Regions from separate parts of the Homo sapiens genome. Here region 2 is linked to region 1. The links come from fine-mapping of genetic effects on gene expression. A gene starts in region 1. The other region holds a variant in brackets. All regions are shown on one strand. Distances are from middle to middle.

Region 1 (8,320 bases):
CACCTGGTGTTGGCTCTGAGAGGAGGAGGTGGTCTTAGGCAGTGATGGACCCTCCATTTTACCTCTTTACCCTGTCGCTCATAATGAGGCATCATATATCCTCTCACTCTCTGGGACACCATAGCCACTGCCCCCTCCCCTGGATGCCCAGTAATGTATGTCTACTGGTGGGAGACTGTGAGGATCCCAGGATTCAGTATTCCTGGCCCAGAGGGCCCTTGCTGGCTACTGGGTGTTAGTTTGCAGTCCTGTGTGCTTCCCTCTCTTATGACTGTGTCCCTGGTTGTCAATAAAATATTTCCTGGCCTCCTGGAATCTTTCTTCTGTTGCACAAGTTGACTGAAATAAAAATGGACCTAATGCTCACTCAGTTATAGCAGGCTGAAGGAATCGGACAGTGGAAGGAATGGTGCTCTTACGGGGATTATCAGACTCTAGGAAAACCTACTTAGTGGTGTGTTGGAACCAGTTCCTAGTGGCTAATGAGAGCCAATTATTGGCACCTTTTTCCAACTCTATTAAGTGACTTCATGTTGGTAGCTTGAAATTGGCCATGGTAGGATTATTTACAGAAACTAGCAAACACTACAGATCAGTTCCTCCCCACAAACTGGTTGTTATACATCTACCAGTGTAGTGCTGACATGGATGGTGAAACCTTCGGAGAGTGAATTCTCTCTTGACTGTGGCTGTACTGGACATTTAGGCCTGGTTGGAGAACGCCTTCAAGGGTTTGGCTGACACTGTACTCTATGGCTGGAATATTACTGAGGACTTTGGGTTCTACACTGTCAGGAGGTTGATAATGCAGAAAGATTGAGTGACAAGCTGTGATGTATCACTTGGGTCTCAAGAAGAGGCAGGTGCTAGAAGAAAAGGCTTTCCTTCTTCCCTGGCTTCTTAGTATAATAGAATCGGGCAAGGCTGGGTGGAGTGGAGAAGTAGGGAGGATGCCCGTGGCCAATGCCTTAGAAAGACTTGACTGCTGTGGTTGCATGTGTGGTCGTGTTGGTACCTCGCTGCAATCCTCTTCCCCGCCCAGCATCAGATGGCACTCTTGCGCCATCTCCAGGCTGATGACGCCCCGAGTGGCGACGCTCTAGTCGCCATTTGTCTATGGCAGGCAGGGTGGCTGCCTTAGCTGCCGGAGGTTCCGCACTCTCTAAGGCCCCGGGTGAAGCCCCACCTCTGCTGCGCGCAGCCTGCGGTGCGGGTCATGGCGCGGCTACCGAAGCTGGCAGTCTTTGATTTGGGTGAGGGACGGGAAGGGGAGAATTTCGTAAGGTGCTCTCCTTTTCCACATCCCTAACAGCAGCTCCCGAATCCCTGCATCTCCCGCCCCAGGCTGAACCTTCCCTCTCCTTCCTCTCGCAGATTACACTCTCTGGCCTTTCTGGGTCGACACGCACGTAGACCCTCCGTTCCATAAGAGCAGGTGAGGTAGGGACAGGGAAGACTGGGGGCGAGATAGGACCCAGCCAGGGCTGAGCGCACTCTTGCCCTCTCCAGTGATGGAACTGTACGAGATAGGCGGGGCCAAGACGTCCGACTGTACCCAGAGGTGCCTGAGGTCCTAAAACGATTGCAGAGCCTTGGGGTGCCCGGTGCGGCTGCTTCAAGGTAAGAAGAGCGACTGACAACTGACAGTGTAATGCTGAAGGGTGCATGCAAGAGACAGTGAAACCCCTGGTCTACAAAAATAGGGGCGGTGCAAGTTTCCAAGTATTTACATATTTTTTCCCTTGAACGCTCTCCTGTGCCTTTTAACTATTAAAAAGTGGGGCCAGCAGGCGGGCGCGGTGGCTCACGTCTGTAATCCCAGCACTTTGGGAGGCCGAGGCGGGTGGATCACGAGATCGGGAGTTCAAGACCAGCCTGATCAACATGGTGAAACCCCGTCTCTACTAAAAATACAAAAATTAGCAGGGCGTGGTGGCACGCACCTGTAATCCTAGCTACTCGGGAGGCTGAGGCAGGAGAATCGCTTGAACCCGGGAGGCGGAGGTTGCAGTGAGCTGAGATGGAGCCACTGCACTTCAGCCTGGGTGACAGAGTGAGACAATGTCTCAAAAAAAAAAAAAAAAAAAAAAGTGGGGCCAGACACAGTGACTCACACCTGTAATCTTAGCATTTTGGGAGGCCTAGGTGGGAGGATCACTTGAGCCCAGGAATTTGAGACCAGCCTAGGCAATAGAGGGAGACCCTATCTCTACCAAAAAAAAAAAAAAAATTGTAGTGGCGTGCACCTGTAGTCCCAGCTACTTGGGAGGCTGAGGTGGGAGGATCACTTGAGCCCAGGAGGTCGTGACCACAGTGAGCCGTGATTGGGTCGCTGCACTCCAGTCTGGGCAACAGAGCTAGACCCTGTCTCAAAACAAAAGCTAAAACATTGGCCCAGCACCAATTGTGTCAAATAGGAAGGCAATGGAGTTAAACAGAGGCTGAGGATGCCTGTCCATCCCGGAAAAACAGCAAGTTGATTTCCCTGGTTATACTTACTAACTTTGCTTAATAAGTTAACGTAGCCCTGGCCCTTCACTTTGCTAATCCCATCTTTTACACCGTTTTGCAGGACAAGTGAGATAGAAGGGGCCAACCAGCTACTGGAGCTCTTTGACCTCTTCAGGTACTTTGTTCATCGGGAAATCTATCCAGGCAGCAAGATCACACACTTTGAGAGGTATGCGGAGATAAGGGAGGAGCAGGGTGAGAAAGTATCAGAGAGGCCTGGGAAACCAAGATACTAGCTTGGTTACTCCTGCCCTGTCTTGAATAGGTTGCAGCAGAAGACTGGAATTCCTTTCTCCCAGATGATCTTCTTTGATGATGAGAGGCGGAATATTGTAGACGTCAGCAAACTGGGTACTGAGTGATGAGGAACAGCCATTTGGGGTCCCTAGGAGGGATTAGGTAGATACATACAGGTTGGATAGTTTGCCCTATAGGTGGCACTCACAAAGGTCAGAGTAATAATGGAGAACCCTGAAAGCTTAATGAAATGTGACTTCTTATCTTTCTAGGTGTTACCTGCATTCACATCCAGAATGGAATGAATCTTCAAACTCTAAGTCAAGGGTTAGAGACATTTGCGAAGGCCCAAACTGGGCCTTTGAGGTCCAGCCTTGAGGAGAGCCCATTTGAGGCCTAAACTGAAAGGAAATCAAGAAGGCATTTTCAGGTGCATTTGTAATTTATTAAAGTTCATCTGTGTGTGACAGAAGAGATTTTACCCACAGTGTGGGGAGTTTCTATTTTTCTAGCCTGTGAAATGGGGTTGGTTGTCCTGAGGTGCAGAGACCAGAATGTGAGACATTAGACTGCATCAGGTTTGCCATCTAAACTTAGGGCAACCCCAAGTGCTTGAACCTATACCACCCCACTTTCCTGAGCTCTGTAAAGAGCATGAAGTTTTCCCACTGACCCCATACACTGAGGTGCCATCACACTGCACATTTCCTTCCGGAGAACAAGCACGTACTCAGGTGGAGATAGAACTGTCTTTTTACTTAATAGAAAATGATGTGGCAGCTTTAAGAGGAGCGCGTCGGTCTGGGGCTGGTGGCTTGGGTCACGTGACACCGGTGGTCTCGTTTGCGCCTCTTGATGTCGCGGCGGCGCCCTGAGGACGGATTGGGCAAGGCTGGTCCCTGTGTGATGAGACATCACCCTCCCAGGAGCAAGGCGGAAGTCTGGAGGACGCTGAGGGGCGGAGGCGGGAGAGGCGAGCTCGCGATGAGTGGTCTCGGCAGGCTCTTCGGGAAGGGTGAGCCAGGGTGGGACTGGCCAGCCAGGAGGCGCTGGCTGGTGCAGGGGAAGAGGAGACCCCGGCGAGATTCGGCCGGACCGCTGCGCCGGGCAGGGGAAGAGAATCAGGAGACAGGCTGACTGGAAAACCCCGGCGGCCGATGGCGGAGCAAGGCTCATCGCCGGTGCCAAAAGGCACACCATGTCGGGGCGCCTTGTTCCCGTCCGCCGTCCTCCCCCACTCTCAGAGGGAAGAACTCAAGATCTGGGAGGGGACTTGAGTTGAGGGCGTGGCGATCGTGCTGACTCCCACTGTTCAGGCTTGAAGACGAGTTTCCTGCTGTCTTCAGCCATTTTCAAAACCTTGTTCTATAATACTTTGTGCTGGGCAAGAGGGATCTAAGGTGAAGAAGAAAGACTGCCTTCTTAGCCCGGCGCGGGGGCTCACGCCTGTACTCGCAACACTTTGGGAGGCCGACGTGGGTGGATCATGAGGTCAGGAGTTTGAGATCAGCCTGGCCAATATGGTGAAACCCCGTCTCTACTAAAAATATAAAAATTGGCCGGGCGCGGTGGCTCACGCCTGTAATCCCAGCACTTTGGGAGGCCGAGGTGGGTGGATCACCTGAGGTCAAGAGTTCGAGACCAGCCTGGACAACATGGTGAAACCTTGTCTCTACTAAAAATACAAAAAAAAAAAAAAAATTAGCTGGTTGTGGTGGCACGCGCCTGTAGTCCCAGCTACTGGGGGAGGCTGAGACAGGTGAATCGCTTGAACCCAGGAGGCGGAGGTTGTAGTGAGCCAAGATTGCACCAATGCACTCCAGCCTTGGTGACAGAGGGAGACTCCATTCTCAAAAAAAAAAAAAAAAATTAGGTGGGCATGATGGTGTGTGCCTGTAGTCCCAGCTACTCAGGGAGGCTGAGGCAGGAGAATCACTTGAACCCGGGAGACGGAGGTTGCAATGAGCTGAGATCATGCCACTGCACTCTGGCCTGGGCAACAGAGCGAGACTCTGTCTCAAAAAAAGAAGTCCTGGCGCGGTGGCTCATGCCTGTAATCAAAACACTTTGGGAGGCCGAGGCGGGCAGATCACCTGAGGTTGGGAGTTCGACACCAGCCTGACCAACATGGAGAAAGCCTGTCTGTACTAAAAACACAAAAAATTAGCCAGGCATGGTGGCACATGCCTGTGATCCCAGCTATTTGGGAGGCTGAGGCAGGAGAATTGCTTGAACCCAGGAGGCGGAGGTTGAGGTGAGCTGAGATCACGCCATTGCGTTCCAGCCTGGGCAACAAGACTGAAACTCTGCCTAAAGAAAAAAAAAGAAAGGCAGCTAGGAATAGTAAAAAGAATATTGGTTTTAGAACTCATACTGCCACATCTTGATTCCTGCACAATCTCTTATTAGTTGTGATTTTTAACATCTTTGTGGTTGTTTTCACATTTTTAAAGTGAAGAGATAGCACGTTCATTGTAGAGATTTGGGGATTAGCAATAACACAGTCAGGTCTCTAGCACATACTATGTATTCAATGATTGGTGGCTAATATTTTTCCTTCACAAAATTTGGGCCTACTCCACTGGACTCCTCAGGGAAGAAGGAGAAAGGGCCAACCCCTGAAGAAGCAATACAGAAACTGAAGGAGACAGAGAAGATACTGATCAAGAAACAGGAATTTTTGGAGCAGAAGATTCAACAGGAGCTACAAACAGCCAAGAAGTATGGGACCAAGAATAAGAGAGGTAATGAGGGAAACAAGCCTATGGGGAGGGCCCAGATGGGAAGCAGGTGCTTCTGACTCTTGATGTTCAGGGTATGGGCTGGGTCAGCTGCCCTACAGGCTTTGCGGAGGAAGAAAAGATTCGAACAGCAGCTGGCACAAACTGACGGGACATTATCCACCCTGGAGTTTCAGCGTGAGGCCATTGAGAATGCCACTACCAATGCAGAAGTCCTTCGTACCATGGAGCTTGCTGCCCAAAGCATGAAGAAGGCCTACCAGGACATGTGGGTACGGGGGGAGGGGTGGAGGGGACCCAGGCACTGGGAAGAGTGGCTTGCTATCACACTTTAAACTTTAAAGCCTCTCAGAATGTGAATTTGCAGTATAGATACTTGTGATGGCTAGACATCCATCTGCCCCTTGCTTCCTATAAAATTCTTTCGCTGCCTGGGGCATTCTAGGGAGGAAAGATGCCTTCTCTAATTCTTTTTTTGTTTTGTTTTGTTTTGTTTTTTGAGATGGAGTCTTGCTCTGTCGCCCAGGCTGGAGTGCAGTGGCACAATCTCGGCTCACTGCAACCTCCGCCTCCTGGGTTCAAGTGATTCTCCTGCCTCAGCCTCCTGAGTAGCTGGGATTACAGGTGTGCACTACTGTGCCCAGCTCATTTTTGTATTTTTAGTAGAGATGGAGTTTTGCCATTTTGGCCAGGCTGGTCTTGAACTCCTGACCTCAGGTGATCCACCTGCCTTGGCCTCCCAAAGTGCTGGGATCACAACTTGCATCTTTGCAATTTTCCAGGGATCTCTTCTGATTGATAGTTATGGGCTTATCAGTGTGACCCTGCAAGGCAGGAGGGGTTTCATTCATGTGAGATGAGAAAGTCAAGGGGGCATTGTTGCGTGATTTCTTAGCTATCTATCTCATTCTCAGGGACATTGACAAGGTAGATGAACTGATGACTGACATCACGGAACAACAGGAGGTGGCCCAGCAGATCTCAGATGCCATTTCTCGGCCTATGGGCTTTGGAGATGATGTGGATGAGGTGATTGGGGGTGAAGGGTCAGGGAATATTGCAGAAAGTATGGGACTGGCCAGAAGGAACACCCAAGAGAGGCTCTTGGGACAAGTTTGGGAGGGAACTTCAAAAGTGGTATGTTTTTGGAGGTAGAAGTTTTTTTCTTCATCTAAAGTGGTCTTGTCTTCCCTATCCAGGATGAACTGCTGGAGGAGCTAGAGGAGCTGGAGCAGGAGGAATTGGCCCAGGAGTTGTTAAATGTGGGCGACAAGGAAGAAGAACCCTCAGTCAAATTGCCTAGTGTACCTTCTACTCATCTGCCGGCAGGGCCAGGTATGCAGGGTTGTTCTGTTGTCTTGAGGACTTAAGAGGGTGGGAGAGATATGGGGAAAGATTATTCCTCATCCATCCTGCCTCAAAGGAGCCACACAGAAAGGGCTGCTGCTGCAGTTGTGCAGGTTGTTGACTGCATATAGGCACCCACCTAGCCTGTGCTTCACTCAACAAGCCGTGTACCCTGGTTTAGGGCTGCAAATGGCAGGAGCAAGAGGCACCATTTTTCTAATTTGCACAAAGGTGCTGTGGGATTGAACAGCAGCCTAGCAAGCAGAAGGACCATACCTTTAGGTTTTTTGCTGGGGAGACAGAATTCAGCAGGCTCTGAATGTCATAGCAGGGGATGGTTGGAGTTGCTGAGACCTTACTGCTTCTCCTTTCTTTTCTCTGGGTATCTTTGTCCTCAAAGCTCCCAAAGTGGATGAAGATGAAGAAGCACTAAAGCAGTTGGCTGAGTGGGTATCCTGATAAATCTGGGCTTGTCTTCCTAATGCTACCTTTGTTGGTCCTTTCTTCCTTAAGTGCCAAGTGCTGAGCTAAAGGAGGATAACTTTTTGGGGAAGTCATGCTGAGGGTGGTAGTGTGACCCTGCCTGAAAAAAGGGTCTCTTACCCTCCCAGCCCTGGCTCAACTCTGAAGAAGGATCTTGCTACAGAAGGAGCCCTTGGGCTCCCTTCTCTTTGATAGCAGTTATAATGCCCTTGTTCCCAATAAAACTGGGCAGATGGAATCCTAGTGTCTATACTGCCTTGTCTACCCCTGAAGCTGTTCCCCTGGCCCTTGGAGCCTTATTTCAAGCAATGAATAATTAGAGCAAAGAAGGGGGGTTGGAACATAGAACAAATGGGCATTCCTAGTATCTCAACCTATGTTCCAGGCAAACATTATTTCATCTTTCAAGCCGGTTTGTCCTAGAGTTGCCTAGTTGCTGAGGCTGAAGAAACTGCCATCTACCACTTAGAACCACGTGGAGGCATCTCTGAGTCTTCCCTCATTGCTTTCCCCTGGTCGTGCCTCTGCCAAGACAGCCCCAAATTTCTTTTACAAAGCCCATTTTCAAGGACAAGGAGGGAGAATACCATGGAAGGAGCAAGTAGCTTTGCTACTTGGAATGGAAGGAGCAAGTAGCTTTGCTACTTGGAATGGAAGGAGCAAGTAGCTTTGCTACTTGGAATGGAAGGAGCAAGTAGCTTTGCTACTTGGAATGGAAGGAGCAAGTAGCTTTGCTACTTGGAATGGAAGGAGCAAGTAGCTTTGCTACTTGGAATGGAAGGAGCAAGTAGCTTTCCTTTATCCAGAACCCATAGTTAGTAGCTTTCACTACTAGAAGGCTTGGTTTGAATTCTGTGTCTGGGAACAATTGTGTGAGAAGCCTTGTCTCCCTGCTATTGTGTCAGTAGTGGTTAAGGTGACACTGGAAGAGGGAAAAGGAACCAAGGTACTTCATACACCCGAATACCCATTTCTTTTCTTTTCTTTTTTTTTTTTTTTTG
Region 2 (8,320 bases), 28 kb after region 1:
TGGCCACTGAATGCCCGAAGCTCGAGTTCTCCAACCCAGCTTGGGAACTCCCGGCGTGGGGAACCTACATTGCCAGAGTCGGGTTTCCGCGATTCAGCCGGTGCTCAGCCTAACGGAAGTGGAGGAGCCGGACCTCTTTGTGGGAAGCGAATTGAATCACCTTGGCAACCCGCGGGGCGTGCAGCAACGCCCTTTCCTCCGGAAGTGGGTGTCAGAACCTCCACGTGCTGTCCCTCCCCCTCCCCTTTTCGGCCCAGTAGCGGCGGCTCAGTTGCTGCCATGGAGTCAGCCGGGCTAGAGCAGCTCCTACGGGAGCTGCTGCTACCGGACACCGAGCGCATCCGTCGGGTACGGAGCAGGCGTAACCGGGCCAGGGCGAGCGGGAGGTTGCGGGAAAGGCCCAACTCTCACCCCTAGCTTCCCCCCAGGCCACGGAACAGCTCCAGATCGTTCTTCGGGCCCCCGCCGCTTTGCCGGCTCTCTGCGACCTGCTAGCCTCGGCGGCCGACCCCCAGGTGAGACCCCTGACTCTCCCCTCCGAGCTTCCCACTGTACGCCACCGGTCAAGCCCCAGTATTCGCCCACTGCGGTCCGCTCAGCACCTTCCTGCCCGGACCCCCACGTGCTTGCTTCCTCGTCCTAGATCCGCCAGTTTGCGGCCGTGCTGACCCGCAGACGACTGAACACCCGCTGGCGACGGCTGGCGGCGGAGCAACGGGAGAGGTGGGCTGGGCCTGGGGTGGGGCGGGGCCAGGCGGAGACTTTTCTTGGGCAGGCTGGGTACCAAACACCTGCCACCTGTGTTCCAGCCTCAAGTCCCTGATCCTGACGGCCCTGCAGAGAGAAACAGAGTAAGTACCTACCCACTTCTCTCGGGATCTTGACGACTTTGTCTAGGTTTCTGCCTTCCTTTTCGGCTCCAGGCTGGGACTTGTGGGGCAGGGACTTCAGTTCTAGACGCAAGGTGGAGTGAGGATTTTAAGGCTGTTTTGAAGACTAAAGTTCTTGAGGAAGGGTGATGATGATCTGCCAAACCCAAGTCAGAAGAATAAGACTGAAATTCAGGCTAAGTTAGACTGAACTTACCAGATTACATGCCCACAGTGCTGTTGGGCTCCCTCTGAGCTGCTGTCTCATGTGTCCCAACTTGGCAAAGACCCTGTGCCCACACCTCCTGAAAGTTTCTGTCCTGGCTGCCCCATTGAGCCTGGCCACTGTGTGCAGAGGAAGGTATTGAAGGGTGATTGGAGGAGATCTCTCCTGTTTGCAGGCACTGTGTGAGCCTCAGCCTGGCCCAGCTCTCAGCCACCATTTTTCGAAAGGAAGGCTTGGAGGCCTGGCCACAGCTTTTGCAGCTGCTTCAGCACAGTACCCACAGCCCCCACAGCCCAGAGAGAGAGGTACCATCACATGGTTGGCAGGAGGGAGGGCCTGAGAGGCTGGATAGACCTTGTAAGCTTGCTCTCCCATCCTCTATTCTTGGACAGATGGGGCTTTTGCTGCTAAGTGTGGTGGTGACCTCCCGGCCCGAGGCCTTCCAACCCCACCACCGGGAGCTTCTTCGGCTTCTGAATGAGACTCTTGGTGAGGTGGGCTCTCCTGGGCTGCTCTTCTACTCCCTGCGCACTCTGACCACCATGGCTCCCTACCTCAGCACTGAAGATGTGGTGAGATGTGGGCCCTCGTTATCTTTGACTCCCTTTCCTCATGCCTTCATGTCCTCACCCGTAAAAGTTACAAAGCTGCTTTGGATTCTTTACCTGCCTGTGGCCCTTCCTGACAATTGAGAGGGGATGCTGTAGGTGGGCCTGGCTGTTATGCCTGGGCTCCTCCTCGCAATTCAGGCTGTGAGGAAGCTGCCAGCTGCTGGGGTGTGAGATTGGGCTGCATCATGCTCTCTGTGATGTGTCCCTCAGCCTCTCGCTCGGATGTTGGTGCCCAAGCTGATCATGGCCATGCAGACTCTGATCCCCATAGATGAGGTGAGGACAGGTGGGCAGGAGCTCTGTTGGAAGGAGAGTGCAGAAGTGTCCAGTTTGGCCCACTGAAGAAGAGCATGGTAACCTTGTGCCTTGTTTGTCTGTCAGGCAAAGGCCTGTGAGGCCCTTGAGGCTTTGGATGAACTGTTGGAGTCAGAGGTGCCGGTCATCACCCCCTACCTCTCTGAAGTCCTCACATTCTGCCTGGAGGTGAGCCTGGAGTGGACATGGCCCCTGCTACATGCTCTGCTGGGACTCTCCTTCCCTGTCGCTGATTTTTATTATTCTGTGGACAGGTAGCTAGAAATGTGGCCCTGGGCAATGCGATACGCATACGTATTCTCTGCTGCCTCACTTTCTTGGTCAAAGTCAAGAGCAAGGTAAGTGAGTGCCCATTGACACACATCACCCCACCCCCATCTCCACCCTTAGTCTCACTCCTGGGGCTTTCGGTCCATCTCAGGGTATCTAAAGTACTGTGGGGGTTCAAGCCTTGGCCTGGCCTCACCCCAGCTCCTGCCTGGGAGGTTGGGAATTTTCTGTCAGACCCCTTATGGCCTGGAAGACTGGAATTTTTAATGTGAGCCCATCCTGGGAGCAGATTCTTAGGGACACTGTTCCACCTTCTCTGTCAAGGCCTTACTGAAGAATCGTCTCCTGCCACCCTTGCTGCACACCCTTTTCCCCATTGTGGCTGCTGAGCCCCCACCAGGCCAGTTGGATCCCGAGGACCAGGATTCAGAAGAGGAAGAGTTGGAGATTGAGCTGATGGGGGAGACTCCCAAGCATTTCGCTGTACAAGTGAGATGTGGGGCAGGACAGAGGGGGAAGGTGTTAGGTGGCTGTGGGACGTTGGGGAGGCAGAGATGGAGTCAAGCAAAGTAAGTCTCCCCATCCCATCTCAGGTTGTGGACATGCTGGCACTACACCTGCCCCCCGAGAAGCTCTGTCCCCAGCTGGTAAGTGTGGCTCTGTCCTTCTGGTGTCCCTACCTCCAAGTGTGCCTAGTCCCCCTGAGGCCAACGACGTTTAGACCCTGGGAGGTGTGAAGGCCTATTACCACAGGAATGGGCAGGCTCTTGCTGGGGTTTCAGAAGCGTGCCACATGCTTCCCTAGATGCCCATGTTGGAAGAGGCTTTGCGGAGCGAGAGCCCATACCAGCGCAAAGCTGGACTCCTGGTGCTGGCCGTGCTGTCTGACGGAGCTGGCGACCACATCAGGCAGAGGTATGTATTCCCCTGTCCCAGGGTGAGGGTTGCCCACAGGGAGGACCATGGCTGTCCTGGTTTACGCTTGTTGTTCAAGCTTATTTATCAACAGCGTTTCCCCCCATTATCAAAAGTGTCCTGGCTTGGAAGATAAATGACATGGCTTACCAGCTATAGGGACCAGGGGCTGCTGCCCACCCTCTGGTGACAGGAAAAGCCTTGGTTTTTCCAGGGAAAATGAAGAGAACAGGTCAGCCTAGGGCTCTCAGGTGTAGCTTCTCAGCCTATGTCCTCTTGTTTGCCCCATCCAGACTGCTGCCCCCACTGCTGCAGATTGTGTGCAAGGGCCTGGAGGACCCCTCGCAAGTTGTACGCAATGCTGCGCTGTTTGCCCTGGGCCAGTTCTCAGAAAACCTACAGGTGAACCAGGCTGAATGTGGGAGCCACCACTTGAATGTCCCCTTCCCCTCATCTTTCATCTCTTCAAGCATCCCTGCTGCCATCAGCACTCTTGTGTGTGCCCGGCAGGTGAACCTGACTCAGGCCCTGCTTGCTCCCTCCCCCAGCCCCATATCAGCAGCTATTCAAGGGAGGT[A/G]ATGCCACTGCTCCTCGCCTACTTGAAGTCGGTGCCTCTTGGACACACACACCACCTAGCCAAGGCCTGCTATGCCCTGGAGAATTTTGTGGAGAACCTAGGTAGTGATGGCAGTGGGGAGCTTGGGGAAGGGGGATGAGGCGGCGGCTTTGGCTGAATGTACAGGATGTGCATCTCCCTGCATTGCTGCCTGTGGTAGGGGAAAGGGTGTGATGGTGCCAAAAAAAGGTTTCCGCCTGGAGGGAGGTGGGCGTGCAGGTAGCAGACCTGGGTTGGTTGGTAGAGGAGCATCCTTTCCCACAGGGCCCAAGGTGCAGCCCTACCTTCCGGAGCTTATGGAATGCATGCTGCAGCTTCTGAGGAACCCCAGCAGTCCCCGGGCCAAGGAGCTGGCTGTGAGCGCCCTGGGAGCCATTGGTGAGGAGAGAGGCAGGAGGCAGGGATGTGGGGTTCACCCAAAGGCCCTGTGGCTGGTGGTCCCTGCCCTCTCCAGCTCTGATTCTGTCCTTCCATCCTGCAGCTACGGCTGCCCAGGCCTCGCTGCTGCCCTACTTCCCTGCCATCATGGAGCACCTGCGGGAATTCCTGTTAACAGGCCGTGAGGACCTTCAGCCTGTGCAGATCCAGAGCCTGGGTGAGTGAGAGGTTCCCAGGTGGGGCTCCCAGTGCCAGCAAAGGGCTGGTGCTCACCTGGTGTTGACAGATTGCCCCCACAGGAGCACGGATGTCTTCCTTCTCATCAAAGGGGTGTGCTTCATGCTGTACCAAGGGGTGGGGCGGGATTTCTGAATCCCTCCCAGCCACCACCTTTGGTCCCGTAGCCCACCTCCACCTCCTGGTGCTAATGGAGCCCTTGCCCCCACAGAGACACTGGGGGTGCTGGCACGAGCAGTGGGGGAGCCCATGAGGCCGCTGGCTGAGGAATGCTGCCAGCTGGGTCTGGGCCTCTGCGACCAGGTAGACGACCCTGACTTGCGGCGCTGCACGTGAGTGACCCCTCACCCTGCCTCTGCCCTTGTCCCCTCCCCTCCTGTCTTCCCACTGGACCCACTGGAATCCCCACCCCAGACTCCAGTCGTCTGGTTTGGACCATAGCCAGGTGTTCCCGGGCTCCCCCATCCTGCCTGGTGGTAGCAGGCAGGACCTTACAGCTTCTTCTGCCTGCTTTGACCAGGTACAGCCTATTTGCAGCCTTATCGGGTCTGATGGGTGAGGGCCTGGCGCCCCACTTGGAACAGATCACCACGCTCATGCTGCTGTCACTGCGTTCCACCGAGGGCATTGTGGTGAGCAAAGGGTGGGTGGGCTGGGCCAGGCCTGCCCTGCAATGGGATTTATCTCCTGGGCCCAGCTGAGCCAAAGTCCTTGCCGTGCCTCCGCTCCAGCCTCAGTATGACGGGAGCAGCTCCTTCCTTCTGTTTGACGATGAGAGTGATGGGGAAGAAGAGGAGGAGCTCATGGATGAGGATGTGGAAGAAGAGGATGACTCAGAGATCTCAGGGTGCGGAGGGGTGCTCTTCTGATCAGGAATCTAGACTTTGGCTTTAGACAAGGGCCTAGTGCTGGATCTGCTCCTCTTGGTGCCTGATCACCACTGCCTCCCCTTCTTACTCTAGGTACAGCGTGGAGAATGCCTTCTTCGATGAGAAGGAAGACACCTGTGCTGCCGTGGGGGAGATCTCTGTGAACACCAGGTGAGCATTCGCCCTTCCCTGGCACTGAAAACCCTGCCTGGGGGCCCCTTACCCACGGCTGTGTCTCTCTCTGTAGTGTGGCCTTCCTTCCATACATGGAAAGTGTCTTTGAAGAAGTATTTAAACTGCTGGAGGTGAGCGGGCCGGCGGGTGGAGTGGGTGGGGTTCTCAGGCTGGGGGCCCTGTGTTCACGGTGCACATAGCAGACATATCCCGCCCCTCCTCATCCTGCAGTGCCCTCACCTGAATGTGCGGAAGGCAGCCCATGAGGCTCTGGGTCAGTTTTGCTGTGCACTGCACAAGGCCTGTCAAAGCTGCCCCTCGGAACCCAACACTGCTGGTGAGGAGAGGCTGGGCCAGGCTGGGGGTTCTTGGGGAGGGGCAGGGCCTGACTGGTGCTTCAGCCAATAATGTCCCCAGCTTTGCAGGCTGCCCTGGCCCGAGTCGTGCCATCCTACATGCAGGCAGTGAACAGGGAGCGGGAACGCCAGGTGGTGATGGCCGTGCTGGAGGCCCTGACAGGGGTGCTCCGCAGCTGTGGGACCCTCACACTGAAGCCCCCTGGGCGCCTCGCTGAGCTCTGTGGCGTGCTCAAGGCTGTGCTGCAGAGGAAGGTGAGCAGGGCAGGTGGGCTTCGGGAAGGAGAGGTGCTGGGCCTCGGTTGGGGACTGGCTACAAGTCCACCCCCTACCCCCATGAAAAGAGAAGGGGCGTGAAAGCTCCGCTAAGTTGAGCTACTTCTTGTAGACAGCCTGTCAGGATACTGACGAGGAGGAGGAAGAGGAAGATGATGATCAGGTGAGAGCCAGGGATAAAAACGGGGACCAGGCGGTCCAGGCAGTCTCCACAGGGACAGGGGTGGACAGTGTATTTGGGCTTGGCCTGGGGCAGCCAGGGCCACTAAAAGAGACTGGTAATGGCCAGAGGGATACAACCCTGATCCCACTAAGCCAGTGGGAGTTCAGGGAAGGAGAGCAGTGTGGACTGGGGTGTGCTTGGAGTGATAGGTAGGAGCAGAAGAGCCAGGGGAAGAAGCTGGGTCATGGAAACACCCAGCTTGAGAGGGGCCAGCCCTATCAACCAAGGGCAGCCCCAGGGACCCCTGCAGCTGGTGGCAGAGCGTGGGAGGGAGGTGTACAGTCACTGAGCTGGCCCTGGTGCTCCAGCCCCTGACCTGGCTCCACAGGCTGAATACGACGCCATGTTGCTGGAGCACGCTGGAGAGGCCATCCCTGCCCTGGCAGCCGCGGCTGGGGGAGACTCCTTTGCCCCATTCTTTGCCGGTTTCCTGCCATTATTGGTGTGCAAGACAGTGAGTGTCCATCTTCTGGCTTCAAGCCCTAGTCCCCTCGTGCACCCGGTGCCCACCACAGCCTTTATCCTTGGCCCAGGCTGATCTGTACTCCTTCCTGTTCTCCCCCATCAGAAACAGGGCTGCACAGTGGCAGAGAAGTCCTTTGCAGTGGGGACCTTGGCAGAGACTATTCAGGGCCTGGGTGCTGCCTCAGCCCAGTTTGTGTCTCGGCTGCTCCCTGTGCTGTTGAGCACCGCCCAAGAGGCAGACCCCGAGGTGCGAAGCAATGCCATCTTCGGGATGGGCGTGCTGGCAGAGCATGGGGGCCACCCTGCCCAGGAGTATCCTTGGCTCGCAGGACGGGAGGGACTGGAGGTTGGGGGAGTGTCCCCAGGGCTTGCAGGTGGGCAAGGTCTACCTGAGCGTGTGGCCATTCCTTGACTGTGGACCAGACACTTCCCCAAGCTGCTGGGGCTCCTTTTTCCCCTCCTGGCGCGGGAGCGACATGATCGTGTCCGTGACAACATCTGTGGGGCACTTGCCCGCCTGTTGATGGCCAGTCCCACCAGGAAACCAGAGCCCCAGGTGAGGGAGGGAGACATCAGGCAGGGCTTGGAAGCTGAGGAGGGAGGGTGGTGGAGGGCAGGGCAGGTTGGCCTGAGACATTTGTGTGCCCAGGTGCTGGCTGCCCTACTGCATGCCCTGCCACTGAAGGAGGACTTGGAGGAGTGGGTCACCATTGGGCGCCTCTTCAGCTTCCTGTACCAGAGCAGCCCTGACCAGGTAACCTTGCTGCTGGCAGCCCTCAGAGGGGAACGTGCCGCTCCACTCAGTGATAGGCACTGTCTGCTGATGAGGCTCGGGAGCTCCAGGCTGTCAGTTGCACCTGATGCAAGGTGACAGTTTCAGCTGTTCTTTTGGTACTCCCTGCACCATTTCTTATTTGTCTGCAAGGATTGGCAGCCAGTCCTGTGATGGGACAGGAGGGACTTCCTTTCTCCACGTAGCATTTTTCCTGAGGAAGCTCCATTTCTACCCTTTGGTCTGAGCCAGAAGTTGCAGTTTTCCTAGGCTGGTTTCCTAAACCGGGGCCCTTTCAAACTGTGCTCTGTGGAGCCCAGGGTACCTCTGGGCCACCACACCATACATTTCAATCAGATCAGCTCTGCTCTCTGAAGAGATTTTGCCTGTACCAAGTAGCTAGGTTTGGAGTCATGTCAGAGTGTTTGTGTCACCCTTGTCTTATACCTTTAGAGACTGTTGTGTAGGTGAAGCTCCTGAGTGTCTGGGTTTCTTTAGGTCTTGAGGCTATGACTTTAATCATCTTGTCCCACATCCCCCATTCCCTCCAAAAAAAATCATTAGCACCAAGTTTCATTGGTTCTTCTCATGTTCATAGTTGTCTTGGATGCCTGTGAATCAGTACCAGGTGCAACCACCCCCCTGATAAGAGATTCTGCCACTCCTTGGTCCTGACCACCCTCCTAGACCTGGGGTCTGGGGCTGCTGCCCTGAGTCAGCCACTCTTTCCTCACAGGTTATAGATGTG

What was found. PIP is the estimated chance that this variant, and not a neighbour inherited with it, causes the effect.
Region 2: its variant is fine-mapped to the expression of CHMP4A in monocytes (TOPMed, PIP 0.98).

Annotation. Positions count from the first base shown.
Region 1 is chr14:24,208,852-24,217,171 of GRCh38, reverse strand. It overlaps CHMP4A (charged multivesicular body protein 4A), which reads left to right and starts at 3,684. Exons shown (of 6, transcript NM_014169.5): 1 at 3,684-3,763; 2 at 5,343-5,492; 3 at 5,580-5,757; 4 at 6,404-6,518; 5 at 6,689-6,824; 6 at 7,237-7,557. The coding sequence starts at 3,733. The coding sequence ends at 7,295. It overlaps NEDD8-MDP1 (NEDD8-MDP1 readthrough), which reads left to right. Exons shown (of 7, transcript NM_001199823.3): 4 at 1,510-1,620; 5 at 2,573-2,680; 6 at 2,777-2,862; 7 at 3,021-3,229. The coding sequence ends at 3,148. It overlaps MDP1 (magnesium dependent phosphatase 1), which reads left to right and starts at 1,106. Exons shown (of 6, transcript NM_138476.4): 1 at 1,106-1,253; 2 at 1,375-1,435; 3 at 1,510-1,620; 4 at 2,573-2,680; 5 at 2,777-2,862; 6 at 3,021-3,229. The coding sequence starts at 1,217. The coding sequence ends at 3,148. It overlaps NEDD8 (NEDD8 ubiquitin like modifier), which reads left to right. Exons shown (of 4, transcript NM_006156.3): 4 at 1-315. The coding sequence ends at 45. RefSeq lists enhancers at 1,060-1,229, 1,642-2,380, 3,535-3,829, 3,466-3,965, 3,393-4,201 and 1 more.
Region 2 is chr14:24,180,747-24,189,066 of GRCh38, reverse strand. IPO4 (importin 4) reads left to right here and starts at 251. Exons shown (of 30, transcript NM_024658.4): 1 at 251-348; 2 at 429-515; 3 at 644-723; 4 at 810-851; 5 at 1,271-1,400; 6 at 1,488-1,667; 7 at 1,917-1,982; 8 at 2,088-2,189; 9 at 2,276-2,359; 10 at 2,616-2,780; 11 at 2,885-2,938; 12 at 3,097-3,206; 13 at 3,500-3,608; 14 at 3,755-3,884; 15 more. The coding sequence starts at 280. It also overlaps a transcript of REC8 not described here. RefSeq lists silencers at 680-799, 1,045-1,255. The variant A/G (reference allele first, on the strand shown) is at 3,784.